Linked DNA regions of Homo sapiens: region 2 is linked to region 1. The links come from fine-mapping of genetic effects on gene expression. A gene starts in region 1. The other region holds a variant in brackets. All regions are shown on one strand. Distances are between the middles of the regions.

Region 1 (16,665 bases):
ACAGTAATCACATATAATTCAGGCAGAGGCAAATGGTGTTAAAAATCTGTACATGGCAAGACCCAGTCTCTACAAGAAATACAAAAATTAGCCAGGCATGGTGGCATGCACCTGTAGTCCCAGCTACTTGGGGGATTGAGGCGGGAGGATCACCTGAACCTGGGGAGGTCAAGGCTGCGGTGATCCCTGATGAAGCCACTGCACTCCAGCCTGGGCAAGAGAAGTGAGACCTTGTTTCAAAAAAAGAAAACCAACCAACCAACCAAACAAACAAAAATCCTTGCATTGCCTGAGAAAATGGCAATAGTGTTAAGAAATATTAATTTTTATTATGTTCAGGATGCATATTTTAATCTCTATATTGACCACAAAGAGAATAGTAAGGGTGTATATAACTTCCAAGCTAATAGAAGAGAAAATAGAATGAAAAATGCACTCAAATATTTAAAAGGAGAGAATTATGAACATGAAACAGGTAAAAAAAAATATGAGTTAACTAGTAAACTGCTGGATTTAAACCTAAATATATCAGTTTTTTTTTTTTTTTTAGATGGAGTGTTGCTCTGTTGCCCAGGCTAGAGTGCCGTGGCGTGATCTCAGCTCACTGCAAGCTCCGCCTCCCGGGTTCAGGCCACTCTCCTGCCTCAGCCTCCCAAGTAGCTGGGACTACAGGTGGCCGCCACTACGCCTGGCTAATTTTTTGTATTTTTAGTAGAGACGGGGTTTCTCCGTGTTAGCCAGGATGGTCTGGATCTCCTGACCTCATGATCCGCCCGCCTCGGCCTCCCAAAGTGCTGGGATTACAGGCGTAAGCCACTGCGCCAGGCCTCAATATTTACATTAAATATAAATAGATAAAATTCTCAAATTAACAGACAAATAATAGGCTGGATTAAAATCCAATAACACGGGCTAGGCGCAGTGGCTCATGCCTGTAATCCCAGCACTTTGGGAGGCCAAGGCGGGCAGATCACAAGGTCAAGAGATCAAGACCATCCTGGTGGAAATGGTGAAACCCTGTCTCTACTAAAAATACAAAAATTAGCTGGGCTTGGCAGCATGCACCTGTGATCCCAGCTACTTGGGAGGCTAAAGCAGAAGAATCACTTGAACTCAGGAGGCGAAGGTTGCAGTGAGCCGAGATCACGCCACTGCCCTCCAGCCTGGCGACAGAGACTCCATCTCAAAAAAAAAAAAAAAAAAGAAAAGAAAAAACAACAACAGCAACAAACCAATAACACTATGCTATTTATGACAGATACATCTAAAATATAAGGTTATAGAAATAAAAGGATAGAAGATTTACCACAAGAAAGCTGATTAATATTAGGCAAAATAGTCTTTAAGGCTATTGTTAAAATATTACTGGAGATAAGTGGGATATACATAATGAGAGGAAGTTCAATTTACCAGACAGAGAATACAATTTTAATTTAATACAGTTTTTAGTATTATACCACCAAAACATAAATCAAAAGCTATCAGAACTATAAGGAAAAAAAGATTCATCCATAGACTTAGTAAGACATTTTAACACACCTCTCTCAGTAACTGATACAAGTAATCAATCTGCTTGTAACAATTGTTACAAAATCAATTTATAACAAAATATCAATAAGGATATAAATTGAACCACATAATTAACAGAAGTGATCTAATTGCTTATATAGAACACTGAACTTAACAACTGTAAAACACAAATTATTTTAAACATTCACAAAGAATGTATCCTCAACCAACAGGAAGGAGAAAGCCATCTGGGACATATATGCTCAACTGGTGGATGGGGAGCTAGAGAGAGAGAGAGAGGGACCTGTGGGCCATGGTCTTTATTGGGGTCATTACCCAAGCAGGTTTTCCCACAAGGCGTTCTAACTGATGGGTTTAAAGCAAGTTGGCAAGAGTTCCATGGGGTCACACTGTGACTGAGAGGGGCTACTGTGGCATATCTGCGCAGTCCTTGGGGGTTAAGGGGATCAGAGGGGTGAGTGAAGTAGGTTGTATCTAACCATTCCATAGGGAGGTGGTTGTATAAGGCAGATAACTGGATACACTGCATTAAGGAACTGTAAGGAAGTGGACAACTGGAAAGTGTGTCAAAGGTGACTATGTCCTGCTTCTGATATCTGGTATGAGAAAGCTAAATTTATATTTAAATGGATGTTGAAGTAACATAAAATTATAGGAATTAACTATATTTCTAACTAATTCATGAGCCAAAGAAGAAATCACAAGTGAAAATATTTTGAACTAAATGAAAATGAAAATACAACGTCCAAATTTGTAGGGTGTAGCAAAAGTAGTGCCTAGAGAAAAATTTAGAAACTTGAATGCATATATTAGAAAGTAAGAAACATATAAAATCAATAATCTAAGCTTTCATATTAGGGAACTAGAAAAATAAGGGCAAGTTAAATCCAAACTAAAGAAATAAATAAAAATTAGAGCAGAAATCAATGAAATCTGAAACAAATCGGTAGAGATAAATCAATAAACTCAAAAGATGGTTCTTTGAAAAGATTAATAAAATCAATAAGCCTCTAGCCAGGCTAAGACAAAAAGAGAGAAGACACAAATTACTAATATCAGAAATGAAAGAGAAACATCACTACAGATCCCAAAGACATGAAAAGGATAGTAAATGAATATTATGAACAACTCTGTGCCCATAAATTTGATAAGCTAGAAAAAAATGGAACGATTTCTTGAAAGACACAATCAACCAAAGCTCATACAAGAAGAAGACAATCTGCATAGGCCTATATCTCTTAAACAAATTAAATCAATAATTAATATCCTTCTAAAACATAAAGCACCTAAGCCAGCATGGGTCCATTGATGAATTCCACCAAATGTTTAAGGAAGAAATTACACCAATTATCTATAATCTTTTAAGACAATAGAAACAGGTGAGTACTTTCTACCTCATTTTATGAGGCCAGCATTACCCTAATACCAAAACAACACAAGGACATTACAAGAAAAGAAAACCATAGAGCAATATCTCTCATGAACATATATGCAAAAGTCATCAACAAAATATTAGAAAATCAAATCCAACAATGTACAGAAAGAATTATATACTACACCAAATGGGATATATTTCAGGTTTGCAAGCCTGATTCAATACTAAAAACTCAATTAATGTTATCCATCACATCAATGAATTAAAAAAAATCAGAAAATGTTTAAAGTGGAATGATAATGAAAATGTACATATCAAAACTGTGACTCACAACTAATGCTGTACTTAGAGATGTACCGCTTTAAAGACTTTTTAGAAAATAAGAAAATTAGAAAAATAACAGTAAATGAAACCAAATAATAGCAGATATGGTAATATGGTAGTTAGTAATCACCTTTGGTTCTGGAACATTTGAAATGTGGCTAGACTAAATTGCTCTAAGTGTAGATTATACATGGAATTTTGAGAATTTAATATGAAAACAATAACAAAATATCTAAATAACATTTTGGATATACTGGGTTAATAAAATACATGATTAATATTAATTTAACTTTAAAAAATATTTTTAATGTGGCCACTAGAAAAAGTTAAACTACATATCTGACTTGACTTGTACTATATTTCTTTTGGACAACGCTGATCTAAAGCTAGGATTTACCAATTTTACTCTTGGGTATATTCCCAACAGAAATGTTTATATGTGCCCTAAATGACAAGCACAAGAATGTTCATAGCAGTGTTATGCATAATAACCAAAACCTGGAGACAACACAAATGTCCAGTGGTGGAATGGATAAATAAATAGAGTGTTACTATAATATAAGATACATGTAGCAACAAAAGTGAATAAACTATAGCTACATGGACCAAAATAGATGACTCTCATAATATTAAGTGAAAGAAATCATCTCGTTTGATTTCATTTATTTAAAAATGGGGAAAAATAAGCTACACTATTAGAAGTCAGAATAGCAGTTAATTAACTTGGGGAGAATTGTGAGTGTAGGTACTGGGGGAAGTCTTTGGGAAATTGGCAATGTTCTATGACTTAAATGGGAGGTTGTTACATGCTTACCTGTGAGAACTCATTGAGCTGTGCATTTATGTACACTATGTGCACTTTTCTGTATGTTATTCTTCACAATAAAAAAATTATGAGAGGTTAGTGAGACTTCTAGCAATTTGTTGCAAGTGATTTTAATTAATGTAAGGTCTTCTTGAAAATTAAGCTTTTTGTGGCTGGTCTATTGCAAATTGCAAAAAAACAAATTAAGAGTTGTTTTTTAAAGACCATATTCTGCCCAGTAAGGAAATACTGATTCTTTCTAAATAATTCTAGGTATGACTCCCCAGTTTAAAATTTTAAAAATCTTTGTCCTTTGCTTGGTCACTAGGCTTGGCATGACAGTACAGCTCCTGACAAATATGTCAATAATGTTGACAAAAATAAAATATAGAATCTGAGAATTGCAAAATTTAAAGGGGTCATCCATTCTACATTTTTTTGACTTAGAATTTGTGTGTGTGTGTGTGTGTGTGTGCATGCATCTGATGAAATCTGGGACACTTCCTTTTAAAAATGCATACATGTGTAATATACACAATATATATAATTTCAGGTGGTTTGCCATGATAGTTTATCCAATCTCTGTTATTTGGTAGATAATGCTCCAGGCAGAAACAGTCTAAGAGGCAGAGCTGGTTAGTGGAAAAACCAGGAATGGTATTAAAGACACAGTCACCAAACCAGCCATTATTCTTTCAAGTGAAGCAGCTGCTTTTCCCTTCCCCTGTGTTCCCATCTGTGCACTGCTGTTGTTCACATTAAATTCTCATATAATTATGTCCTTATCCTCTTGTCTACTTGGGAAGAGCCTTCAGCTGTGAAGATAATTCCCTTATCTCCTTTTAAAAAATAACATCCCGTAAGTTGCCATGTATCACTGTTACCATTCCAATTACATTGTAGAGACCATGCCTTATTTGTCTTTGTTTTCCCCAAACCACCTAGCTAAGTACAAGGAACAAAACTCTTACAAAATAAGCAATTGTTAAATTAAAATGACATGCAAATAAATATCTGGCTGAAACTTCATGACAGAACTATATCTCATAATACAGGGTCATTGTGAACTAAAATGCTGATTTCAGACTGACCTAATGTGAATATGGACTCTGCCTTTTACTAGTTGTATGTTGCTGGGTGTATGACAACCTCAGTCTTAGTTGGTAAATCTGATAGCATTAAGCATACTTCATAAGATCATTGTGAAGACTGAGGGAAAAACAGTAATCTACATAAAATGTCTCAAGCAGCGTCTGGCATAGTAAAACCTTAGAAAGTAGCTATGATTTTTGTTATGGCATATTCGACTCTGAATTAAAGATCCAGTAGGAGAAACATAGACTGAGAATCTTAGAAGACTTCGAATCTTCTGATCCAGGAATTGTTCACATATTGTTTTAACAGATTCTGCCTTTGCTCAACCTATTCCAATGGCAGAGAATTAACTAGAACTGACTAAAGCAGCTCCAATTCTCCCGAAGTTCTTCCTTATTATTAGGTTGCACTGTATGAAATTGCCCTTTGTAAGTCAAAGTGATCGAATTATGAATATTTTTTTGGCTGGGCTTGGTGACTCATGCCTGTAATCCCAGCACTTTGGAAGGTCAAGGTGGAAGGATCGCTTGAGGCCAGGAGCTCAAGACCAGCCTGGGCAACATGGTGACATCCCATCTCTAGAAAGAAAAAAAAAGTTAGGGAGGCATGGTGGCACAAACCTGTAGTCACAGCTACTTGGGAGACTTGAGAAGCAGGGATCACTTTAGCCCAGGAGTTTGAGACTGCAGTGAGCTATGATTGTGCCAGTGCACTCCAGCCTGGGCGACAGAGAGAGCCCCTGTCTAAAATGATAATTAATAATAATAATATCTAATAAAATGGCCACAAATCTGCCTGTTATTTTCTCTCAGTTTAGTTCAACGTCCATTCTCTCCTTTTCCTATATGATAGCCCTTTAGAAATAATGCGGAATCAATAGTGAACATGATAGACCTACTCCTGCCTTCATTGAGGCTTACATGCTCGCCAAAGAAACAACAAGGAAATAAGCTATTATGTATAATTTTCTGTCTCAAGGAAGTGAAAGAAGAACATTTGAAGTAAATGGCTTTGTGGAGGGAATTCCTATAGAATATATCATACAGGAAGGTTTGTGAGTATAGAGCAGTGCAGTTCAATAGAACTTTCTGTGATGATGAAAATATTCTGTATCTGCCCGGTCCAATATGATAGCCACTAGCCACATATGGTGATTGAGCACTTGAAATGTAACTAGTGTCAAGTGACTGAGGAAATGAAACTCGAATTTAACTTAATTTTAATTAATTTCAATTTAAATAGCCACATGTGGCTAGTGGCGACCAGATTGAACAGAGCAGATACAGAAGAGCAAATAGCAGTGATAAATGAGGCTGGAAAAGTCAGCAGGGTCCAGATCTGGAAAAATTTTGAGAAGTACATTAATAATAATAGACGTTATCTTGAGACCCACAGAGAATCCTGAAAGGGTTTTAAGTTCCAGAGAATAACACAATCACATATGTGTTTTTGTTTGTTTGTTTGTTTGTTTTTTTGATACAGAGTCTCGCTCTGTCACCCAGGCTGGAGTGCAGTGGCACAACCTCGGCTCACTGCAACCTCCGCCTCCTGGGTTCAAGCGATTCTCCTGCCTCAGCCTCCCGAGTAGCTGGGATTACAGGCTTGCACCACCACACCCAGCTAATTTTTGCATTTTTAGTAGAGACGGGCTTTCACCATATTGTCCAGGCTGGTCTCAAACTCCTGACCTCTTGATCCATCTGCCTTAGCCTCCCAAAGTGCTGAGATTACAGATGTAAGTTTTAGAAAGATAATTCTGGCTGTCTTGGGGAGAAAGATGGGAGGTGGGTAGAGACATTGATCTTGTCTTTAGAAGTTTCATCTATAAGGGGAAAGATGGGAAAAGAAGCAGAAAAATGACTGGAGGATATCTCAGAGATACAAAGAAGTGTATAATCGACCACACCCAGCCACATACAATACTCATATATGTATTTATATACGTTGCACATAGTATTTGTTAACAGTAATGACCCATATTTCTTGCTTTTTTCCTAGTTGCTCACAGGGCAACTAGCCTCTTAAGCGTTTCTGGGTGTCCCCAAAGGTACCTGAGCTCAGAAGTAAGTCTGTCAACAGAGTATCCATGCAGCATCCACCTTGTACATTTTACTCCGCTCTTCTCATGGTCCTCACCACTGAGGCTACTTTTGACTGTGGCCATGCTGAGAGGTGACAGCGTGCTGGCAGTGGTGACAGCGTGCTGGCAGTCCTCACAGCCCTCGCTCGCTCTTGGCGCCTCCTCTGCCTGGGCTCCCACTTTGGCGGCACTTGAGGAGCCCTTCAGCCCACCGCTGCACTGTGGGAGCCCCTTTCTGGGCTGGCCAAGGCCGGAGCCGGCTCCCTCAGCTTGCAGGGAGGTGTGGAGGGAGAGGCGCGAGCTGGAACTGGGGCTGCACGCGGCGCTTGCGGGCCAGCTGGAGTTCCGGGTGGGCGTGGGCTTGGCGGGCCGCGCACTCGGAGCAGCCGGCCGACCCTGCCGGCCCCTGGCAATGAGGGGCTTAGCACCCGGGCCAGCGGCTGCAGAGGGTGTACTGGGTCCCCCGGCAGTGCCAGCCCACCGGCGCTGCGCTCGAGTTCTCACCGGGCCTTAGCTGCCTTCCCGCGGGGCAGGGCTCGGGACCTGCAGCCCGCCGTGCCTGAGCCTCCCACCCCCTCCATGGGCTCCCGTGCGACCCGAGCCTCCCCGATGAGCGCCGCCCCCTGCTCCACGGCGCCCAGTCACTTCCACCACCCAAGGGCTGAGGAGTGCGGGCGCACGGCGCGGGACTGGCAGGCAGCTCCACCTGCAGCCCCGGTGCGGGATCCACTGGGTGAAGCCAGTTGGGCTCTTGAGTCTGGTAGGGACGTGTACAACTTTTATGTCTAGCTCAGGGATTGTAAATACACCAATCGGCACTCTGTATCTAGCTCAAGGTTTGCAAACACACCAATCAGCACCCTGTGTCTAGCTCAGGATTTGTGAATGCACCAATGGACACTCTGTATCTAGCTACTCTGGTGGGGACTTGGAGAACCTTTGTGTGGACACTCTGTATCTAGCTAATCTGGTGGGGAGGTGGAGAACCTTTTGTCTAGCTCAGGGATTGTAAATGCACCAATCAGCGCCCTGTCAAAACAGACCACTCGGCTCTACCAATCAGCAGGATGCGGGTGGGGCCAGATAAGAGAATAAAAGCAGGCTGCCCGAGCCAGCAGTGGCAACCCGCTCGGGTCCCTTTCCACACTGTGGAAGCTTTGTTCTTTTGCTCTTTTCAATAAATCTTAGTACTGCTCACTCTTTGGGTCCACACTGCTTTTATGAGCTGTAACACTCACCGCGAAGGTCTGCAGCTTCACTCCGGAGCCAGCGAGACCACTAACCCACCAGAAGGAAGAAACTCCGGACGCATCCGAACATCAGAAGGAAGAAACTCCAGACGCGCCACCTTAAGAGCTGTAGCATTCACCGCGAGGGTCCGCGGCTTCATTCTTGAAGTCAGTGAGACCAAGAACCCACCAATTCCGGACACAATGCTAATGATCTCAGTGCTCTGAAAGCCAGTAATTCTTAAATTGCCAAGAAAGGCACTCTGTTCTCTGTGGAAGGGGGAGTAAAGCCCCTTCCTGAGCAACCTAAGATACAATTCTTGGCTAATCATCCCCTTTATACTCAGAGCAGTTTCTTTACCCATGACCTTCTGGCTTTTTTTTTTCCTCTCTACCCTGTCTAACCCTACCTATGGGATATGAGAAAACAAAACAGAATGACAAAAATAAGTCTCCAGGAACTGATGATGGTAAGGTGCTATTGGGTCTGTCCTAAATAATTTTGTTTCCCCCTTCTAGAAACCAATGCAGACATGCACATGCACATTACATCCCCCACGTCTTTTCTGGCACACACCACACAGAAGCACATACACTTTATGCACAAAGACATCTTCATCTCCTAGCACTTCAGGGGACATTCCCATACAAGGCTGAATTCACTTGGGGTTGAGCCAGCACCACGCCTATTCCATGTATGTTTCTGCAAAAGAAATGGACGAAGGAGTACATAAGCAATCACAGCTCAACAGTCAGATATAGTAATACTATGCATGGAGTTGGAGCAATAGCGTGGCATAAAGTGAAGTGCATGGACCCTGGTGCCAGCCTGACCTGGATTCAAATCTCACCCTGGTCACATTTACTAACTGGGTGGTCTTGGGCAGATCACTTAAGCACTCTGAACTTGTTTTCAATTCTATAAATACCATCTCTTTGGAGGGCTGTAAAAATTAAAAATAGCACATGCGCAGTGCCTGTACCTAGAAAGTGCTCAATAAATGAAAGCTGCTGTTACTACATTGGTGTTGGAAGCTCGGGATGCCACTTGTGAAGGGGGCACAGAAGAAAGGTCAGACTGCCACCATACCCTGAGGGCTCATCTAGTATAGTTCCCTCATTTTATGGTTGAGGACACTGAAGCCAGAGATAGGAAGAGACTTGGTCAAGGTCACACAGCAAATCAGTAACAGAGCCAGGCCAAGATTCCAAGTGTTTCTGGAAAGGTTCAGCCCAATGCTCTTTTCTGCAGCCCCTATTGTCCTCTGATATGACAATGTGTACTCCTGTTCTGCCCCTGGGGATTGTCCACTCAATGGGTGGGCACGAGAAAGAGCAGATGAGGTGTTTGTGGTAAAGCCTAAGCCAGTGCAGCCATCCCCGTCGCCATGGCAACCCCAGCGCGGTTGGGGAGGACCCGCTCCTCCGGCGCCCCCTCCCATTCACGCAGCGGACGTGACACGTGCGGCGGGGTCACGTGTTGTTGTTGGGCCGGGAAAGCTGCTTCCGGGTCAATGCAGGACACTGGGCTCCGGCGGCCAGAGTGGGGGACTAGGTGAAGCGGCGCCGGGCCGGGGCTGGCCGGGACCAGGCCCGAGGCTGAGCGGCGGCGACAGCGGTGGCCGGGAGGGGGGAGGAGAGGCGCAGCCAGAGGAGCCGCCGCAGTAGCTCCCCCGCCTCCCGGGCTGAGGGGTGAGTGGAGCCGGGCCCGCTGGCTCTGCCGGGCTCTCGAGGCCCGAGGCGTTCCCCTCTGGAGCCGAGGCGCGGAGGGTCGCTCCTGCAGGGTGCTGGGATAGGACACTCGGGGAAGGGTGAAAGCCACATGGGGCCTGTCTCGAGCAGCTGTGGGGATGGGAGACCTGCCCTGGGGCTAGAGGGAGGATGGGGCCTGCCTGGCCTGGGCTATGGCGGAGCTGGGAGGGTCTTGGGCTGGGCTGGGCTGGGCTGGGCTGGGGGACTGGTCCCGGGTTGGAGGAGGGCGTGTTGGGGAGCCTGCCCGGGTTCCTGGGAGAATCTAGGCGTCTCACCTTGCCCCAGCGTGGGGGATGGGTAGATGCCTCCCAGCTGTTAGAAGAGGGAGACGTGTCTGGGACTGCTGGGGAAATAGGAAACTTGTCTCTGAACTACTGAATCCCAGAAAAGAGGACATGTCCCCAGGGAGGTTTGCTGGGGGAAGGACGGGCATGTCTAGGCCCTTGGGACATTAGGCCTGCTCTTACCAGGGGCTGATAAAAGGATGTGGATGTGGTAATTGAATAAGGGCTTTTGGGAGAAAAGATTTGCCCCAAGGTTGGGAGACTGAGAACGAGGGTGTTGGACTGACAGGCGGGTGCCTTGTCGTGGGATCTTGGGGGAAGTAAGGATCTGTGTGGAGCTTCTCTGTTGAGTTCTAGGTCCGCTAGTAGGAAGACATTCTGGGAATTGGTGAAGAGAGGAGATTTAATAGTCTTTTCTTGGGACACAGTGATTCCAGAAGTTGTAGTTGAGGAAAGTTGGTTGGAAGTGTTGAACTGTATACAGTCAGTGGAGAAAGGAGGAGCTCTACTGTGAAGGTTGCTAGGCTACAAAGAGCTTGTAGGCAACGCCTAGGGCTGTTGAGAGAAGTTGGTAATGCTTTCAAGTCCAAATACAGGCTGAGCTGGGGCTTGTCCCTTGTTCATGTCATGCTGCTGTGGAGCTCTTACGTTTCCAGTAGTCTATCTTGAGCAAAGAGTATGAATAGGTGCTGAGGACTAAGGAAAACATTCACTCTTTGGGTCCTGAGATGCATTAGACCCAGATCTCTAGGGTGGTAGCTTTCAAACTTAAAAAAAAAAAAATTATGCCCCACAGTAATAAGTATGTCTTACATTCAGATCTAGTACATACGTAGGTATGAAGGGAAACTTTCACAAAGCAGTATTTACCCTTATTATATGTGATATGTTCTGCTAATTTCTATTATATTCCACCCTCTTGCATTAAAAAAAATGCTGGCTGACATTTACTAAATTGATGATTTGTGGGTCACAACTTGCAGTTTGAAAAACACTGTTTCTGAAGCACATTTATTTGGTGTCAATCAGTGTCCTCATTCTGTAAGCTTCTAAAGAGCAGGGATGATTCTAAGGAGATGGATTTTTTTTTTTTTTATTTTATTTTGGCCGGGGGAGAGGGAGGAGGGCAGCTAGGTGCAATTGATTGCTTCGGTTTAGATGTTTATACCACGTAGCATATTTGACCTGTGTTTTCTGAAGGACCATAATCTTGATCTTTAATATCTTGATGTTGCCTGATCATTTGATTGATGAAATTTTTTGTATGCGTGTGTGTTTTAGTTTCCTTTATCCTTTGCTGTGTCTGAGAAATATGAGAGGCCTAGTTCCACTTAGTTGCTTTATCACAACATAGTTAAAGAAATTTTATTTTACTGTTCCAATGTTGTGAAGATACACTGATTTTCTTTTCTGCTATTTAAAAACATCCCAAATTCTTCTTACTGCAGTAATTATTATGATATACTTTTTGCTACATGATGAAAAATATATGAAAAATACACGATAAAATATATACCAAAGCCATAGACATATTTAAAAGCCTTACAGTCTACGGCTTTGGTATATAAACTTAATCATAAACCTAAGTATAACTTTCAATCAGTTAACATCTTAATTCCCCTTACAAAAATTTTAGGTGGGGTCCTTAGAAAAATAGTATTAATTCATAATAAACATTAATGACTGTTGGTGAACAAAGTGAGAGTCCTTCATGTAATGTTAAATGTTGTAATGTTAAAGTCCTTTGAAAAGTTGTTACATAGCCTATTGCTGCAGGACATTGAGTGTCAAAGGATGTTGTCTAATTTCAGTAGGTACACAGGGTATGTATTTAAGACCAGTTTAATAGCGTTTCTTTTTTTGAGGATGAGTTCGTATTATTTGTAACATAGAATTCAAAGACACGGTCATCAGGACAGAAGTACCCAAGTTAAAACTTCATCAGTGGGGCCACATTCTTGATCAAATGCTTTACGAAAACATTCTATCATCTTTGAACTTTGTGTGTTATAAATCTTTCTTGCCTTTAATTATTTATTAGGTACTGATAGAGGCGTTATGCTGGCATATATCAGCCATCCTTTAAAAATGACCTCTTAATCAGGGAAATATTTGTTTTAAAATATTTAGCTTTAATGAATGTTTAAAGAAGATTTTGTTTTGTAGGTGCCTGGAACATTAAGGAAGATTCTTATTTATTTCATTTTTCTGGGAATCATATGTACTTGTCAATAAACAGTTACGGAGAAGTGACCCTGAGTGATTGTGTGTGCTTTTTAATAGTTTTTGTTTCTTCTCTGATCCTTAGACTCTTAAGCCTGTCCACCTGTAGCAGGCTCTTTTCTCCTTCTAATTTTTGCCTCCAAACTACTATGGTTTTGAAAATCAGATATTTATATTTGTTATATAATACTTTTTTTTCCTTTTCTTAGTGTGTGAACTGTGTGACATGTATGTTGGCTACTTAGAGACCAGTTTACTTAGTCCTGGGCTGTGTTTTAAATAAGTGAACTCTTTATATATTTTGGGCCTGGTTAGCTGTATAAGAAGTAATGTGAAACTGATAGTGATACAATTTGGGCTTAAAGGGTGAAGGAATCCTTATTTGCGATTGTTGCCTTTCTCCTACACGTGATTAGTTATTGAGATTTACTATTCCTCCCTTTTTCATGCTACCCATTCTGACTTACTTCTTTGGAATTAGAATGGTAATAACTGGACTGTTCCCATTGTCTTTTGCTTGCATAGCTTCATGAGAGAACTCTTCCAAAGGATATTGCTATGATTATTTCATTTCCCTCCTCAAAAACCATTAGCTGCTTTCCAGTACAGGCACTGAATAAAGCCCATGGTGTTTAGCTTGATATTTAGGGCCTTCTACAGACTTCCTCTACTTTTTTTCTGGCATCATCATTACACTCCTAAATGCAGTTCCTCTACCTGCCAAGGCCTCTGCTCATGTACCTTCCTTTGTGTGTAAAATTATCCCTGAAAGTCTGCATATAAAATGTTCCCTTTCTTCATGAAATCCTACTCACTCTCATTTCATTTCAGATGACCCCTCTTCTTTGAAGTCTTTGTTGCTTATGTTGTCTGTACTGCCTTTGCTATATTGCTTTGTATTATTTGTGCACCTTATTTTTATCCCTTTTAGATTATAAATGCGTGGTGAACAGGAGGCTCAAATATCCATGAAAAACTAGGACATCTAGCACAGGGTCTACCAGGGCGTAGTTCATAGACCAAGTAGATCAGAATTGACTGAACGTATGGTTAAAAATGCAGATCCGGCAAGGCATTGTGGCTCACACCTGTAATCCCAGCACTTTGGGAGGCCGAGGTAGGAGGATCGCTTGAATCCAGGAGTCAAAGCCAACCTGGGCAACGTAGGGAGACCCATCTCTATGAAAAATTAAAAAATTAGCCAGGCATAGTGGTATATGCCTGTAGTCCCAGCTACTTGAGAGGCTGAGGCCAGAGGATCACGAGCCTCAGAGGTTGAGGCTTCAGTGAGCTATGATTACACCATTGCACTCCAGCCTGGGCAAGAAGAGTGAGGCACTGTTTAAAAAAATAAATAAATAAATAAAATAAAATAAAATAAAGCAGATCCCTGAATTCTGACCTAGACTTACTGAATCAGAATCTCTGGTGGAATCTAGGAATCTGCATTTTATCAAGCTGTCTGGATGATTCTTCCATACAGTAAAAGTTAAAAGTCACTGACCTAGCCTGATGCTTTAAATTACAGTAGGTACTCAAATAACTTTTCAGCAAGTGATGTTAATGAACTGAGCAATATCATAATTCAGCAAACTGGTTTAATTTTAGGGCCTTGAAGTCAGCCTAGATTTGAGTCCTGGCTCTGTCACTAGCTCTGGGCCCGTAACCTCTCTGCTTCAGTTTTCTGATCTGCAAAATGGGATAATAGTACCCCTTATAAAAGTGTTGTGATAACTAAGTGAGATAATACATATAAAACAACACAGTACACAACACATAATAAACTTACAATAGATTTTATCTGCTGTCATGATGATGCCTAGCACAACAGTGGTCACCGCAGTAATAATAAAACATCATGAAGAGAGGTTCCAGATCAGTCATTGTTAACAAACAAATTGCTCATATGGTTTTAAGAACTAAGGCTTAAAATATTTTCTATTTTACATTAACAGATTGTGGCCCTATGTGGTGTTTAAAGTCATAAAGGTGTTTCCGCCTTCTTTAGAAGAATTGGTATCAAATTAGCATGTTAGGATTTTTCCCCTTCATCTCCCCACTGATGGAAGAATAAAGTGCAAACTTTTGAATGGTGGACCTTAGCCCCTTACCATCTGGCCCTACCAATTCTTTATTTTCTAGCCGTCTTCCCACATATACTCTATACTCTACACCAACTACACTACATTTCTCACTTTATTTTGCATTTCTCACTCATTTGTGTTTGTGCAGATGCTTTCCCCTTCTTTTCATCTAGTACATTTCTGCTGCTGTCTTGTAAAACTCAGTTTTACATGTGACTGACCTCCTTAGTGAAGACAGTCACTCCCTCAGTGTTCTCAAAGTCCTTTGTCCATGCTTCTTATATATTACCTTTGTGTACATTTGTCTTTTTGGAGGGAAAAACGATTTAATCCTGGCATGTATTCCCACCTCTGCCAAAAGGGGAGGATGTTTGTTTATTTGACTCATATCAGCTCCTCCATTTGTCTGGACGTCTCAGCTTTCACAATAATAACTAGTTTATTGACCACTTACTTCATGCCAGGTACTTAACTAGATGCTTCAAAAACTTTATTTCATGTAGTCTTCACAATAACTGTGAAATGGCTATTAATAGCTTCATTTTACAAGTGAGGAAGCAGGCATAGAGATAGGTAAGTAACTTGTTCAAATTACACAGTAGTCATAAGTGAACTCAGAACTAACTGAAGACCATGCTTTTAATCACAGTGCTCTTCTAAAAATGAAATTTAAACAGGTAGCCCATTTCCCAAATTCAGGATCTTAAAACTGTGTGAAACTTTGATTAATCACTAATCATTCTTAGGAATGTGATCCATAACAAGTACTATTGTGAAAAGTTATTTAAAACTGTTCTTGGAATAATGCGTTTCCGGTGATTTTCAAAATTTTTCTTCTCATTCTGCCATTGGTGAGCTTCATTTTCATTTCACTGTCAGAAGGTGTTGCTTCATGTCTATTGATAATGAAATTCACTTTTCCATTTATCCAATGAATATTTTTTAATCATATGCCAGGCACTGCTCTGCACAAAACTGAACTGGACTGACAAATCCCTGCTTGTGTGGGACCTATCTTCTGCTGGAGAACAAACACTGAACTAACGGATTATGATAAGTGCTATAAAGAATGACAGAGGGTGAAGTGACTATGAGTGATGGTGGCAGTAGTGCTATTTTTGATGGGGTGGTCAGAAGCAGCCTCTTTGAGAGGGTGACATTTGTGTTTAAATTTGAGACTTAAACACTGAGATGAAGCAGCTCTGCCAAGAGACAGGAAAAGGGCAATCCTGCAAATGCAAAGGCTGTAGGGGGAAATCAGCTTGGCAAGTCTGAGAAATAGAAAACCACGGAGGCTGAGTAGTGGGCCAGGAAAGGAGTGGGAGGAAATGAGGTTAGAGATGTAAGCAGTGATCAGATTAAATGAATCCTTGGCGACCATGATGAAGAGATTGGATTTTATTCTGCATGTGAAGGGGAGCCATTGGAGAGTGTAAAGGACATGATTTGACTTAAATTTTGAAAAGATCACTTGGCTGCTTTGTGGAGAATGATTTGTATAAGAGTCAAGAGGGACCAGGGCGGAGGCTAATGCAGAGGTCCTGGTGAGAAGTTGATGATGGCTTGAACAAGAATAAAGTAATAGAGATGGACAAAATTGGGCAAAATTGGGATATTTTGGATGTGGTATTGATAGGTCTTGCTGATTAGTTACACAGGGGTATGAGAAGAAGAGAAAAGTCAAATATAACTTCCAAGATGGGAATGAGTGGAAGAGGAGCAGATTTGGAGAGGGAATTCAGAGTTCTGTTTTTGCCTTCCTGATCATACTATCCACTAAGGATACCACTATTCTGAATTTTGTGTTTTTTTCTCTGCCTTTTCTTTACAGTTTTTGCCATATATGTACGCAACCTTAAATGATAAGATGGCTAATTTCCATGT
Region 2 (16,665 bases), 86 kb after region 1:
CCCCTCTGCCTCCAGTGACCCTCACTGGGTGTTAGGGAAGGTTTCCAGGCCACAGTTTGAGATTTCCCTTGTGGAAGATCGTGTCTAGCGCTAGGTCCCTTGTTAGATTTTGCCTGGAAAGTGCCCTGTCCTATCTCCTGCAGAGCGGTGCATCAGAGAGAAAAGAGAGGGCATAAAACCTAAAAAGTTTGGAAATTTTCTTTAAATACTTCATGCATACCTGTGAAAAAATAGAGTAGAGCCTATCTGTGGCGACTGTTGAAAACCAGAGAAACAAAAAAAGACTTTAATAGAAAACCAACTTCATTTAAATGTTGGAGGCAGCTGCTTTGTTTGGAGTTTTAATCCCATGCTGGTGGATGCTAATTCTGTAACATTATACAGTTGCCTTCTTTTGGGTACAAAGGTAGAAGGGGGGTTTTCTTTTGTGTTTTTCAGTGCAAAGTGATTCTGATCAGAAAGGCCCAAGGTTTCAGCTCCAAGTACCTGACATTTCCATCTGAATCTACTTTTTTTTTCAAAGGGGAAAAAAAAAGGTCTAGTTTTTCAGGAAAAGAACCTCTCTACGCAATCCTGAAACTGATCTTTAGATTTACTTTTCCTTAATCAATAGAAAAAAACTTGATTGCAGCTCAACACTTACCTGTCTCTAGTGCAGGACTAACTTAATTTTTGGTTTTAAGAGTACGAGATTCAGACATTATTTCAGGAATCAGAAATTATTGGCAACAAGTTGAGGAGAACTGACATGAATTCTTGTTTTACCTAATTTTTTCTGGCTTACCAAGATTTGGCTTAATATTTCTGACTCAGTTCCTCCAGCCTCTACAGAACAGGTTAGTGACATTTTTCATAAATACAAATATCTAAATGAATCCTCCTTACTTCTCTCTGAACCGGTTCCCTAAGGGCTCTAGTCTTAAACTTGCACGGCATCTTCTCCATTAAAGCTGTGTGTGATCTCTGCTAAACCTTTGTACCCTTTCCAGCAAAACTGTCTAATATTTAATATGTGCTTGAAATTACAACATATATACTTGACAACTAAAGATTTGCAATAAAACTCTCACAGGATAAATTCATTGCCTTTCCCGTGAAAGTTTGGCTGAAGAATTGTGATAACTTCAAATGATAAGAGGAAGGTTTTTCTTTTTTAAGAATACTGTCAGGAGGAGACTTCATGGTCTAGCCACACGCTTGGGTGATGTCTAACTTGAGCTTGCGTCCGTGTTCTCATCGCAGCTTTGCAGAGTGACACAGACAAAACATGCTCCTGATGGAGGGTAAAGCCACCATGCAACCGATTGTAAACTAACACGAAAACAAGTTTCTCTTTGCTGTGTTCCTTCTTTAATTAACTTGCTGGAACTAATTGGTTGCTTGTGCGCTGGATTCTATTTTTATTGTGATTCCAACTCTGGATTGGTCCTTTTTTATTACTAATGTTTCTATCATTCATTTCACTGTGGGAAGTCAGTGAACAGAGTAGACTGGCCCTGAATCTGGTCAATACTTCAAAATGATGGATCGGCTCCATTCTATGGAGAAGGTGATGGCAGACTCTAAATTCTCCTAGCTGTAGAACACATTGTGTTTTAACCAACTTTTGTTTGATTCTGATGGAAAGCTGTAGTGAAAATTAGGAAATCCAGGTCTCACTGGGGTGTGGTTTCTGCTGCAGAGACACAACCCGGGACCTGCATGCATCTTTAGCGTTGGGTCCTAGTTTTCAGCGCTTTATTTGATGCAGAGGGGATACCTTTCCTTTACGCATACCACTCTCACTGATCCTAAATAATTACTTGACAGTTTGAATGATCTCATTACACTTCCAGACTGGCTTCTTCTGGGCATCTAATTTGTTCATGAAGTGTTGAACTTCGGAGGACCTGCCAGCATTCAGGGGATTTCAGCCCGACTCAGCACTGTTGATGTTGTTATGTGAATTTGTTCTATGACGGTTTTGATGGTCTTGGGATTAGCCACTAAACACACCTGGTGTTCTGTTTACTCTGGCAAGCTGGGGATTTTTTTTTCATTTTCTTTTTAAAATTCCAGGATGAATTATTCATCATTCCTTAGAATTTGGGTCTCTTTCATCTTCGCACTTGTACAGCACCAAGGTGAGTACTACAGAATTCCATAAAGCTCTCAGTTAGCATGCTCTTGAATTGATAAAGAGACACTTTTATTGGAACCACAATTGTAAGGGCAGGTGCATGTGTGTCTACAGATACAAGAGAAAAATGTAATTAAATTCTATTATCAAGGGTAAAATTCATTAACTTTAAATGAGGTTTACTTATATTCCCACTTTTTTCTTATTTAACTTCAAATACTATTTGTATGTACCAGCTTGCCCTGTGCTAGTGGAGTAGATCTTTAAAATTACGCAAAATTATTTCCATTAAAAGTAGATAAGATAGGGGTATGTGCACTTCATGTCTGATCACTGATTTCCATTAAGGCATTTAATTTGTGGTGGAGACTTTAAAGAATCTACTTATTTCGGCCAAAAACTAGGAAATTACAATAGCATTGATGTCAGTGGTTTGTGTATCAGTGACCTTTTACGTGGCCCTCAAATCTAAAACTTAAATAAGACAATTTTTCCCCTCAGTGATTCCTTCTTTTTCTCTGTGTAGCACTGCCCTGGGTAAGTGAAAGGCCACATATGTCTTTTTTCTACTGTTGTTTTGGATTTTAGACAAAGACGGGGCGGTCTACGTAGATTTTAACTTTTTATGGCTAAAATTCTAAGGCACCTTTCTTTACCTTGCGAGTTTGTCTAGTTCAAGTGGCACATGAGTACAAGTCTGAGATGAACACGTCAAGCCCCTGTGCAGTGCTAATATTTTTCCAGAATTGGTGAATTTAAGCAGTTAAACCATAGTGTGAAACCCCACGGGAATGAAAGAGGGCCCTTGACTTCAACCTCCTACCCCAGCTCCAAGAAAGTACATTTTATTTGGTGGGAAAAAAAAAATCCTGGAAACATAGCTATGTTTATTGTGAAATTCTCAGCTTAGGGCAAGCATGGATAGGGATATTCTTTCTTTTAGCAACTCTGATGTTATTGATAGGCCATGCTGCTAACAGTTTTATATATATATATAAAAATAATAATGGCTTCTGCAGTGTTAATTACCGTAGTTTAAACCTACGCCCTTGTGTTTAGCACCCTCTTTTTCATTTGACAAGTATTATTTACCATATTAGATATTCTTAATGTTTGTATCCTTCTTAAAATTAAAAATATTTAACAGTCCGTTCTTTCCTATTCAAAATTGTGAACTAATTAGGATCACCCACGAAGAGAAGAATCTTGCAAACTGCCTCACCTTTGCAGCAGAAGAGGAAGTTAGGGTCATTCTCCCTGGCCATGGTTTTCCGTCTCCTCCATGCGGTATTATGGGTTTTCCATTCCCTAGGCAGATTGGCCAATCAGTGCAGCCCAAAATACCAATTAATCTTTCCATACAGATGATGATAATTCAGTGTGAATTTGAGCCCTCATTCATACTTGGGCATGACTCCTAAAAAGTTCCCCATGAAGGATAAATCCATGCCAGGACATAATTTGTTACTGTTAACTTCAGAAATAAGTACCTGTGTATAATACTGTAGTAGAGATTATAAAGATTTTTTTTAATTAGTACTTCCAGGAATTTTTAATTTGTTACTATTATGTAAATAGAAATGTTAGAAGACCCCTTTTCACCTGCTGGTTGTGACATTAAATACAGCTCATGGGCCCAGAGTGCCTATGACCCGACACAGCGCCTCCTACAGCCTCAAATTCGGGCTGCTTCTCAGCAACTTCTGGGGTTTGGACGATGCATATACACGAATGACCAGATTAGTTTTGCTGCTCTCCTTGGATGTCAGCCCCTGGAAAGAAATTAGCCCTCCGTTGAGGCATAACTCCTCTTGCTCCCTGCTTCAGAACTGGAGAGCTGGCTCTTGGCCTGGTGCAACAGGCCTGCTTTCTGGCCGCTTTGCACTCCTCTCTTTTACATGAGCTGTTGTCTGTTCACCAAAAGCCTCCCAAAGGAGCAAAGACAGTCCTTGGCCGGTTGCTCCCCAGCCTATTGCTTCCATCAGCACAGAGCAGGGACTTTCCCAAGTAGAAGGCCCGACATGAGAATGGGGGTGTCGGCATCTCATAGCAGCAAGCAGGTACCTCAAGAAGTGTGGCCGATGCCCAGCATGGTCTTGCCCCTGCCCCCGAGAATGAGAAATTTAAAGAAAGGAAAAAAGGGAGAAAACGATAGTGTCCTATTGTCTTATATTCATTCAGGAGAAGAAAGGACAGAGGCAAAGAAAAGTAACACCCAAAATGTAGATTATTTCACAGATGCTATTGGACTTGATCCTCAGTGATGCAGACCCTAGGGAACTTGTCTCATTTCTCCCACAAAACTGAGCCACATCTTGCAACAGTATGGACGGGAAACCTGGGAGCAGCAAGCCAGGAGAGGAGGTGACCCTGTCACAGCGGGATGCAGTGTGTGTTTGTGTGATGGCTCTCCAGTGACCAGGAGGACCAATCAGAGCCCTGCAATTCATTCTCTCCAAAGAGTTCTCAAGGACCCAACCCTCTGACCCCGGAGGATCTCATGTCTGTCTTTTGTAAAAAAGGAGTTGGGCAAAGAGCCTCTTGCAGGGCCGCCCTCAATCAAGGTCATTCATGGGCCAATTGCTACAAATCCTCTCCTCCCACTTTTGTCTCAGTTCCCACTGTTGTTTATTTCCTTCTGGGATCTGGGATTTTCTCCAATTGTGCAGCAAGAGGGAGGGAACTCCTTTCAGGAAAACACACGATAGTGGAATTCTTGAGCTAGAACAGGAGCTTCAAAACTGTGGCCATGCCAGACCTAGAGGCTGCCTCTCAGTATCCAGAAAGCTCAAGGTTTCCAGGGAAATTTCACAAATTTCCAGCCAGCTGTAGCCATAGATATCACCAAGATGCATGAAAGTGCAAGAACATGCACAAAGTGCTTTCTCCTATGGAGAAACAATGTCACTCCCATTTTCCCGTTTCCCAGAGCAGAAGATACTGCGCTGTGTATGGCCTAGGTTTAGGATGAATGACAGGGCAGTATGACTTGCATTCAGCTTGCAAGCCCTACTGAAAGAAGCTGGCTTCAGTAGGTAGGAGAGATGTAGATTGCCAAACGGCAGAGGGAGCTGCCATCTATCTAACCATCATCTCTCTTGACAGCTCAGCCCAGGGAGCTCATGTATCCATTTTGGCAGAATGACACCAAAACCCCTAAAGTAGATGATGGAAGCTCATCTGAGATTAAGTTGGCCATCCCAGTTTTCTTCTTTGGCGTTCCTTACCGCACTGTCTATGTAAGTGGAGAAGCAGCCCATCTGTTGTTCTCTGGCCCTCCCTTTTGTTTGTCATTAAGAAAAGCATTTTAAGTATCCTCTTCCAGAGCTCTGGGAAGGGAGGATTTATTGGCAGCCAAAACGACAAGTTCTGAGATTTCATGAGCTGATAGGTTTTATGAATAAGAAAGTCAAAGGTATATTTAATGGCTAATGTTCATAGTGGAGGAGTATACAGGGCAATAAATTGCTTTTGTCAGTGATTAAACATAGAAGTGAAGCAGAAGCCCCAATGCCATGAATGTTATTTCTGCTACTCAACGAGATAAAAAGATACAATGAACCACAGTAGGAGCAATATCATTTTTCTTTCCCTTCTGGGGGTGTGAAAAGTTTAGGCATCTGCTGTTCTTGGGCTTCCTACCAATTTGAAGCAGAGTCGGAACACAGTAGGGGGGTAATCAACTATTATATCAAAGTTGTTTGCAGAATTGGCCACCCTCAATATGGGTCTGTAGATAGGCCAGAGGGTCTCATCGCCCAACCCACACTAAGAAATGGTCCCATTTGTGATCAGAGCTCTCCTAGGCACCTGTGTTCTCAGGTTTTTGTTTTTGGTTTTTTGGATCATTGGGTTTGCTGCTAGCGAAACTGTGGCACATGAAGAGGAAGATTCAGAGCAGCCGAGCCTGGCTTTATTGTTGGCCTTAAAGAACTGGGTGAGGGATTATACCACACCCCTGGAGGAAGAATGCAACCCTAAGCATGTCCACCTCTGGCCATCTCTACGTCTGGGACCTCTCTCTTCCCCAACTTTTGATTTATGGCTCCGGGATGATTCCCGCTAGAAAAGAGTTCACTATTCCATTACCTAACGGTGGTCCCTGAACCTGCAGAAGCAGCGTCACACAGGCACTCATTAGCAATGTCATTTCTCAGGTCCCACCCCACACCTACTGAGTCAGAAACTCTGGGAGGAGGAGCCAGTAATCTGTGTTTTAATGAGTCCTCCAAGTGGTTCTGATGCCCACAAAAGTTTGAGAACCACTGATCTCAACCATAGGATATAATCAAGACACACGTGAGTCATCACCAGCTTCCTCTGCCAGTCTGTGTGTTTTAATTACACCTGTTGTTCCCTAGCAAACACTTCATTCTGACATCCTGAAACGCCTTTTATACTCTATTCACGGCAGGGCCTCCCTAGTCTGTCTTTGTAATAGCTGGTTTTAAGTTTTGGGTTGTGTTGACCTGATTTTGGCAATAAGGCAGTGAGGACTTCCGTGCTGGAAGCCCAGTTAAGCTAGTTTTTCTTCTCTATTGCACTGTGTGATATGGAGTCTGAAGAATTTTTTCTTGCCCTTGCAACAGGAGGTTCCTTAGCTTGAGGCAGATTTATTTGAGGGTAAATTGTTCCTTGCGTTTCCAACACTTTGAGTAGTGCAGTTTTCTTCAAGCCTCTAGGATGTTCCCAATTACTGGAAGACAATAGGCTCTTAATGTCTCTTCCAAACCCAAAGCCTTGCTTCCAAACACGTAGACCTACCCTTGGTCCAGGCCTTGATAACTTGCCTCTGGGATCTGGGCCACTGTTAATGTCCATAATGTTACTGGTTAACAGAAACTTAACATATGATTGGAATGTATAGGAAAATTATCTCCAGGTTTTCTATATCCAAGAATTGCAGTTCCCATTACAGGTACCTCTGCTGCTGAAGCCGTGTCAGCCACAGGGTTAAATCAGTTTATCTACCAACGTACAGAGCTGCAGATTCACGCAGAGGCTGAATTGTTTACAGGTCCCTTGTAAACTGAGGGTATATCTTGGCTTGTGATTTCCAGTAAGGTTTCCTATTTAATTGGTTTACTAAGCCATTTACAAATCATGAAGAAATCACCATAAGATAGTCATTTACATAAACAGTGTAAAGTAGTCATGCCTCCATTTTTATGCAGCGATTGTACCAGGACACTATCACACCACATGAGCTGGAATGGAACTGGGCATCTGTAGGTCTTAACCTTGTCCTTGCTCTGAGTGCAGGAGTGGTTGTGACATCAGTGGAGGTCTTTTAAATGTCTCACCCAAAGCAGAATATTTTCATCAGAGACTGGAGTTGGATGAAGGAGTATTTGATTTATCTTTCTCTGACACTCCTCTTTTGTCATAAAATAGGAAGCAAGCCCTAACATAGGGCACCTCAATTTTCAAATTTAACTTTACTTCCATGCTTATTTATTTTTCCTGCTTATTTTGTATTAGTGACCCTGAATCTGTCTTTAGTACCCATGTTACTCCCTGTCTGGCCCAGCACATACACGCATGCCACCCCCAGTACACACATACACACACACACCACTCCCAGTACACACACATCACACCTCAATATACATACACACACACCACCCTCAGTACACACACATGTACACACCAACCCCAGTATACACACACATACACACCATGCCCAGTACACAAACATATACATCCCACCTCAGTAAGCACACACACCCCACCCCTAGTACATACACATATACACACCCACTCCAGTATGCACACACTGCCCACCCCAGTACACACACACTCCAATATACACACACACATACACACCACCCCCAGTACACACACACACACACATCCCAGTATACACACACACCACATCCCCCGTATACACACACACTCCCCACCCCAGAATACACACACAAAGCCCACTCCAGTACACACACATGCTCCAGTATACACACACACCTCACCCCAATACACACACACATACCCCCACTCCAGTACACACACACTTACACACCTCACCCCAGTACACACACACACACCATCACCAGAACACACACACCCATACTCCTCACCTCAGTACACAAACACACACTCACGCACCTCACCCCAGTACACACACACCCTTCAGTACACACACATGCACATCTCACCTGTAGTACACACATACACACACACAGAAGCACAACTCAGGAGCATTTGATAAGTGTAATAGAGACAGGATAGGGAACATGAAAATGAGACTGATTATTAATCAGAAATGAAGCTGGTTACAAATCTAATGTGAAAGAAAACCAATGAGTTTGTCTGGAAGTAAACGAACCTCTTAGTCTGAGCAATGGAACCCGGTGTTTGGGGGTTCTAATTCAGTAGTTTAAAAGTTGTTTTCATTCATACAGTTAGGCGAATGTCTGTCTTGGTTTGTGACTCTGAAGTTGTTATGGTTTCAGATCCACTGTGCAAAACCTCTCTTATTTTCGTAGGTCAATAACAACGGAGTTGTTTCCTTCAATGTGCTAGTGAGCCAGTTCACGCCAGAATCCTTTCCCCTGACAGATGGGAGAGCCTTCGTCGCCCCATTTTGGGCAGATGTGCACAATGGAATTCGAGGCGAGATCTATTACAGAGAGACCATGGAGCCTGCCATCTTGAAAAGAGCCACCAAGGACATCAGGAAGTACTTCAAAGACATGGCAACCTTCTCTGCCACTTGGGTTTTCATTGTGACATGGGAGGAAGTCACGTTTTATGGAGGCAGCAGCACCACACCTGTAATAATTCAAATTTTCTGCTTTCCACTTCATAACCTGACATCTAATTCTTGTCCATCTTCGCTACCACGAAGGAGTCTAATTATTAGAGCTAAGGAGTGTCAGTTCCCTTGAGTTAAACTAATGAGTTTTGCTACCCACTTTGCAGGAAACAGAGGGAACTATCACAGTTAACCAGCCCAGTCAGCTGTAATATTTCAGAAGATATGTCACCCCTATCACAAATCATCACTAATGCCTAAAAAAAAACCCTCAAAAACTTTCCTGCTGTAAGTGACATTGCTGTTTTGCAGGAGAGTGCTTGAGGCACTGAGACCCATTCCAGGCCACATGCTTAGGGACCCATCTAGGGACCCAAAGGTCCTTTTCTCTTGCCCGAGGTACAAGTGCCTCTCTCCATCCCTGATTTCCTCCCTCTCTCCCCAGTAAAATTTGGTTGGAAGAGAAAAATAGCGTTCCAAGTTTGGGCCCAAATGATCTGGCTCATTTTATTATGTTGTGACATCTTTTTTATTGTTACCAGGGCTGAAATTATTCATATTTGATGTTAATTAGAGTGGGCAGTGAAAGCATTTCATGAATAAAGTTTCAACATCTGCTCTGAAATCCCAAATAAGCAGTCAAATAAAAGTCAGATAAGAAAGATTATCACTGCCATTATTGCAGAGATAATCAACTTTCTACATAAAGGGACAGAATGCAGTTTTCACAAAAGCCTGCAGCTTGTTTGGGTGACTTTGCCAGTGGAGAGTTTTGAAGTAGTAGACACATCTTCAACTGTATAATTTCTAGTAAGCAAAGACACTCAAAAAATCTGCCCTCCACTTACTTAGGATTATTTCCAATTCCATCTGTTTTCCAATTTCCTTGGCAACGAGTCAATTGTGGAGGGGTGGAACAAAAACGACTGAGTTAGAGAGAGGTGAAAAAGTGCTGGGCTTGCAGTTCACAGCTGCGACACCACGAACACATTATGTTTTAGCACCT[C/T]CTAGCCAGAGCATCAAGAAGCACTTTATCGCTAAGAGGTTCTGTAGAACAGAAAGACACAAGTTTAAACAGCGATGCATTGGCTAGAAATAACCTCTAAAGAAGCACACATTTCCCTCTGTCACGTTATAGATCGCTAACGACTCCTCGGGTGATGTTTTATGTCCTTTAAGCCTCATATCTTACAGCGTTAGAATGTGGGATGCCAGCAATTGATAAATTTTAGTGTCATGGGGTTGGGGGAAGAAATGCCTATCAAATGCTGACCACCAGTTTTTCAAAAAAACTTCCATTGGCAATAAAAATGGCAAGATAATTTAGATACTTTCTGGCTTATACTTTGGAGTATATTTCTGAACTAGGTGAGAACTCTTTCTGTGAGGATGAATGAAGTAACATCTAAGTGCTTTGAGCTCCTTGGAGTAAAAAAAGATGATGTAGTTCTCTGGAGCTGCAAAAGTGTCCATCCATCCCCATCTTTGAAATTGGCCCCACCTCTTTCATCCCGTTATTCCATGTTTCCCCTTCTGTATAGAAACACATATGATCAGGCCAGCTAAACACTGGGCTTGAGAGGTCTTTCAAAGGCAAAAATTCTCATGCGACGCCAACAGAAGGGAAGGAAAAGGGACATGTTTACTTCAAGGAAGGAAAACTAATATTTACTGAGGGTTTACTATGTGTCTGGTGCTGAAGGCTATTTTTGCATATCATTTAACCCTCCCCAAAATGTTCCCGGACAAGTACTGTCTCCAATTTCAAGGGAAGGGAACAGGCCGGGAGAGGCCAAGTATCTCGTTCAAGTGGCAAGAAAAAGAATAGGATTCAAATCTCCTAGGAGACAGAGCAGGGTTCAAACCAAAGTCTTCCAACTCCAAATCCCAGACTCTTCTTTCTTCAGCTGCCTCCTGCGGGTATTGCTGAAGTCCTCAGAAGCAAAAAAGATTTTTTTATCCAGAAGAGTCTTGGAATGAACGTTGAAGAATTCTGTAGTGTGAGAATGTGTAAGAGTGAGCTGAGGTGCGTGCGGGTGGCAGTCAGCCTCTGGGGTGTCACTGGTATGGCTGGTTGGTTTAGAGGTGACTTCAGGGGTTGGAAATGGATTGCTCTTGAGATCTGCTTGGACCAAAGATATTTCCAGCTTCACTGTGGGAGAAGGAATTCCCTTCTGAAGGAGAATCTTGGTCTGAAGGAGGCTCTAGCTTTAGTCCTTGTGTGACTTTGACTTTGCCCCTGTCCCTTGAACAAGAGCCTGCTGGTGACCTTACAGCAATCTTGAGCCTACTGCTCACTCATCTCTGTGTCCCACTGTCCTCTTCTGTTGAATGGGGCCAGAGACTGAAGGCGTTTACCTGAGCAAGTCTATCACAAACGCCATCAGCCGTGGCCAGCACAGAGCATGGGAAGAAAAGTTCTTTACAAAAAGGGCTGTTCTTACTCATAGCTTGCCTCCCTTTCTGGGATCATCTAGAATGGGGAGATTTGGGGCTTCCAAGATCCTCTACCCCAGTTTGATTACACAGGATAAGGATTTGTGTCTTCCTCTGCATCAGACAGAGTGTCAGGCAGCTGGGAAAAGTGCTAGGTTTGAATAGAAAAAGGTCAATGCAGCCTCTCCTTTTAACTCTATTTCTATTAAATTTTTTGAAAACATGTGACAAGGGGTGAGGATTAGCAAGAGGAAAATATAAAGGACAGGGTTTGCTACAGCTTATTTCTGAAAACCATTTACAAGTTTCATATGAATTTAAGCAACATCTCTATCCTAAAAAGTTTAAAATGAAGACAGCATGGAATGGCAGTGCTCTGAGAGATGGACTGGGAACTCTGGCGCAAATCTCGTTTTCTGTTGCTGGGTCACTGTGAAATTTCTAGTAACTCATTTCCCGCAGTCCCTAGTTTTCTTAACTATAAGATAGGCGTGGGCCAATACGATCACCCGTCTTAGCGTTGGTCTGGGGTACAGATGAATGTTAACGATTTTCAGAAATAAAGTGATGCACAAATGCTCAATTAGAGGAGTAACTTCTCCCCAGAAAGTGCTTTTTAAAAATCACTTTCCCACTTCCATTTTTAAAAGGGGAGACATCTCATCAAGATTAATGTTGTTTTCCGGGAAGAGAGAGAGCGCAATCCGCATGGCCACTTTAATCACACGGACTGGTATCTGCTCCCTCTTCCAACCCGCTCTGCAAGGGGAACCGGTGGTTGCATCCTGGTCCCCGGCCGAGTCTTTCCTGTAGTTTATTCTCATGCTGCCATCTATAGGTGCTTTCATATTATCACACGCTTAGCCGGGCCTCTGAATTTTCTGTCTGGTAGAAGTCAGAGATATAAGTGGGCGCTGAGTCAGACTCTGGGTTTATCTCAGGCAATTTCTCTTTTAGAAGCACAGTCCCACATGTCTTGCTTTTCCCAACGGAGGCGAGAACAAATTCAGAGAGGAGTCAGAGCTGGAGGGCCTGGCTGCAGAGCAGCTCTGAGCTGCCTGTGGGTGGGGAGGGCGCAGGGTGAAGGGAGGACCTCCTTGGGGCCAGGACCTCCTGGGGAGTGCAAGTCATGAGACTGCGCATTCCCATCCTGTAGGTGAACACCTTCCAGGCCGTCCTAGTGTCCGATGGCTCCTATACATTCACCCTCTTCAATTATTACGAAATCAACTGGACCACGGGGACGGCGAGTGGCGGCGACCCCCTGACAGGTCTTGGTGGAGTGATGGCACAGGTAGGTGGCTCTCCACTTCATCCCCCGCGTGTTTCCGTCGCTGCACTCTCTGCTTCTGTGGCTCAGCATCCTGGAGGGAATCCTGCCACCAGCTTTTAACTAGAGACGCAGGTCTGATCTCGCAGGTGGACTACGAGGCTAGTCCTGCCCATGTTTGGCACCCTGACTCGGCTATGAAATGAACTAGGCAGTCCTTTCTCACCTAGAATGCTGGCCCCAGTGACTCCAGGAAAAGACGGCTCTTGATTTTAGAGGTGCTGGATTTTAAAAATAAGGTAGTTGGGCCAGTTAACCCATGGGGAATTTTTGTACTCAAAAATCTTGTCTTCCTTTTGTGCTGCAGGCAGGATTTAATGGTGGAAACCTCACCAATTTCTTCAGCCTCCCGGGGTCAAGAACCCCCGAGATCGTGAATATCCAGGAGACCACAAACGTCAATGTTCCAGGCCGCTGGGCATTTAAAGTTGATGGAAAGGAAATTGACCCAGCCAATGGCTGCACCTCAAGGGGTAAAGCTTTTCCTCTGTCTGTGGCAAGGCAGGGTTTGTTTAGTGTAGATTGACAGGCAAGCTTTTAAGCCACGGGGGCGGACTCATTCCTGATGCCTTACTCTTTTGACATCTCTCCGCTGGGTAATGGAGATCAAGGTAATTTTAGCATGTGCATTCATCACATCAGAAGCTAAAACACTGCATTCACTACCTTGTGGCTTTGGAAGTCCTTTTCTGGAGTGTGCACACAGTTATCCGTTCTGAACAACTCCGAAATGGACCAAGATCTTGAGTGATTTCTGAGCCAGAGGGACAGAAGGCAGCCCTCCTGTTTAACATTATTTTTGTTGTTGTTGTTGCCATTTCCTCCCCCCGCCCTTTATGTTTTTCTTCTCATCCTTATTCTCGCTCTGTCTTCTGCACTTTGTAGATCTACAGGAATGGGTGCAGTTGGAGTATTGCCAAGTTCCTATGAGGGTAAATCAGTACTTCCTAGTATGATTAGAAAAAAAAGAAACAAAAGTTCTCCTAAAATCTTCCCAGCATCAGCAAAACGTGCAGGAATTTGAGGAGAATCAAAGCTGACTTTGGGTATCTGTGAGTAAGCTGTAGTTGAACCTGGGTGGATGTCCTTCACATTGGGCACCCAAAGTTTGGAGCCTTTTCTGAACTATCGAACCCCTTTAGATGTGCAAACTCACCATGGACTTTCAGAGAAACATCCTGGTTTATGAATTCCTGCTTTTTTGTGTCCAAAAATATTTAGAAAACAGAATTTCTGATAATATTTCTACTTCCAGGAGTAGAAGCTACAGAAATTAGAAGAAGGAAATAATGCCTCTGTTCATTAGTCCATCCACCCACCCATCTATCCAGCTACCCACCCACCCACCCACCCATCCACCCACCCATCCATCCACCTACCCACCCACCCATCCACCCACCCATCCATCCACCTACCCACCCACCCATCCACCCACCCATCCATCCACCTAGCCACCCACCCATTCACCCACCCATCCATTTATCCATCCACCCATTCACCCACCCATCCATCCACCTACCCACCCACCCATTCACTCACCCATCCACCTACCCACCCACCCATCCACCCACCCATCCATCCACCTACCCACCCACCCATTCACCCACCCATCTATTTATCCATCTACCCATTCACCCACTCATCCACCTACCCATCCATCCATTCATCCGTCCACCCATTCACCAACCTATCCATCCACCTACCCACCCACCCATTCACCCACCCATCCATTTATCCATCCACCCATTCACCCACTCATCCACCTACCCATCCATCCATTCATCCGTCCACCCATTCACCAACCTATCCATCCACCTACCCACCCACCCATTCACCCACCCATCCATTTATCCATCCACCCATTCACCCACTCATCCACCTACCCATCCATCCATTTATCCATCCACCCATTCACCCACCCATCCATCCACCTACCCACCCACCCATTCACCCATCCATCCATTTATCCATCCACCCATTCACCCACCCATCCATCCACCTACTCACCCATCCACCAACCCATCCATCAAGTCATCCAGCCATTTAGCAAGCCATTGCATCTTTCTGAAAAGCATTTTAAGAGCCCCATTGAAATGCCAGCCACTCTGTGAGGTGCTGGAGATAAAGCTGCTCTAGCTACCATGACATTACTATGGTAGAGGAGACAGAGCCATGGGAACAATGATGACACAGCATAAGACATATTATGGTAGACACTTGTGTAGGGTACTGTGGAAACACAGAGGAAGACCATGGGAAAAGTGTTTCCAGACCTCTAAGGAAGTTTTGGATAGGAATGAGGAGGTGCCTTTATCCCCTCAGATAGAAGCTTGGACTGCTTGTCTTGGCAGCCCTGGGAGGCCTCGGGGTTCTTTCTTGGCTCAGATTCAATTTGTTGTTGTTGTTGTTGTTTTTTGTTTAGGAGACAGGGTCTCTCTCTGTCACCCAGACTGGCTAGAGAACAGTGTCGTGGTCATAGCTCACTGTAACTTTGAACTCCAAACTCCTGGGCTCAAGTAATCCTCTCACCTCAGTCTCCTGAGTAGCTGGGACTACAAGAACCACAACCATGTCAGCTAATTTTTATTTTTTGTAGAGATAGGGTCTCAGTATGTTGCCCAGGCTGGTCTCAAACTCCTGGTCTCAAGCCATCCTCCCATCTCAGCCTTCCAAAGCACTGGGATTAAAGGTGTGAGCCACTGCACCTGGGCTCAATGTGTTTAATATACAGAAAAGCCACATTCACATGGTCTGACACACCTGTGCCCTCTGCCCCTTTCCCTGTGCTGTGATTAGTGCCTTCGCTCTAAGGTAGGTCATGTGTGAAGATGGCCTGCCTGGACCCTTGCCTCTGTGGACTCTGTAAAGTCCCCCATGTTCAAAATAACAAATAAATGTTTTGCAGCTAAGCTGGTATTAACTGGATAGGAAATAATCTAGTTCCAGAGCTCATTAGGATTTGAGATTGTACCCTCCTCCCCTACAGAGTGTAAATACGGCATCACTTAAGGTCTGTGAGAGATACCAACTCAATACTACATTATCTCCCTCCCCTGTATAGCCTGGACCAGGGGCCTCAGAAGTTGCAGACTCTTACCCAAATACCTCTTCCCTTTGTCCAGGCATCACAGAGATGACTGGCTATGGCCATACAACATGAGTGCCCAGTGACAGCCTCTCACCTGGGTCCTGGGAATGAAATGCTGTGATAACGGAAAACACTGGCTTGCAGAGCTGCGGAGTTGGTCAGATGCCAGCTGTGTACACAGTCTCCACTTTGACTTCATTCTTTTCCTCCTGAGTTATAGGTTTGGGTTTCATATACGGGATGATTTCAATATCCTTATATAGACTGCTATGCATTTTTATGTGCCTCCGGACATATATCAATCTAATGAGACTGGGATTTGGCCTGGGGTATAGCAGGGGAAGTGTTCTGTAGAGCTGGTTTATTATATCATCATTCCACAAACAAAATTATCTCAAAGAGTCTACCTTTTGGTCCAAACCTCCTCTATTCAAAGGCATTTTCCTCTCACTTATTGAAAGCCTGAAAAAGCAGGGCCTGGAAATGATGCTGAGTGGAGGCTGTCACAATACATACAGCCCTGAACTAGTGCCAAGGAGTGCTGAGGATTAGGACCTGTTTTCAGGGCTGATGCACATGACTTATTGGGAATGTGACTAAATCTATTCTCTCATTTTTCAACCCTATTCTCAACAGGTATAAAATGGAATTGCCTGTTGAAACATCATTGTTCCTGTTGGGCAGATAGAGTCAAGACTGTTACTGATACACCCGCACCCTCAACTTGGGTTAACCTTGCAGCCTTGTGCTATTCACTCGATAGTCAGTTTTATAAAAACTTGAGATGTTATTTACATTTCTTAATGCTGTGTCTTTGATACTTGCCTTTTCAGACATTCTCATTTTACAAGTGCTTCTACTTCTATCAACCTGTGTCAACTTTTTTATAACATCGCTGTTCTCTGTGAGACAGGGATGAGAAACAGCAGTATCCACAT

What was found. PIP is the estimated chance that this variant, and not a neighbour inherited with it, causes the effect.
Region 2: its variant is fine-mapped to the expression of TBCEL-TECTA in whole blood (INTERVAL, PIP 0.92).

Annotation. Positions count from the first base shown.
Region 1 is chr11:121,014,162-121,030,826 of GRCh38, forward strand. TBCEL-TECTA (TBCEL-TECTA readthrough) reads left to right here and starts at 9,941. Exons shown (of 30, transcript NM_001378761.1): 1 at 9,941-10,130. TBCEL (tubulin folding cofactor E like) reads left to right here and starts at 9,941. Exons shown (of 9, transcript NM_001363644.2): 1 at 9,941-10,130. RefSeq lists silencers at 9,755-9,904, 9,925-10,194.
Region 2 is chr11:121,100,607-121,117,271 of GRCh38, forward strand. It overlaps TBCEL-TECTA (TBCEL-TECTA readthrough), which reads left to right. Exons shown (of 30, transcript NM_001378761.1): 8 at 2,059-2,123; 9 at 5,225-5,358; 10 at 8,605-8,892; 11 at 12,466-12,603; 12 at 12,947-13,112. It overlaps TECTA (tectorin alpha), which reads left to right and starts at 637. Exons shown (of 24, transcript NM_005422.4): 1 at 637-836; 2 at 2,059-2,123; 3 at 5,225-5,358; 4 at 8,605-8,892; 5 at 12,466-12,603; 6 at 12,947-13,112. The coding sequence starts at 2,060. The variant C/T (reference allele first, on the strand shown) is at 9,880.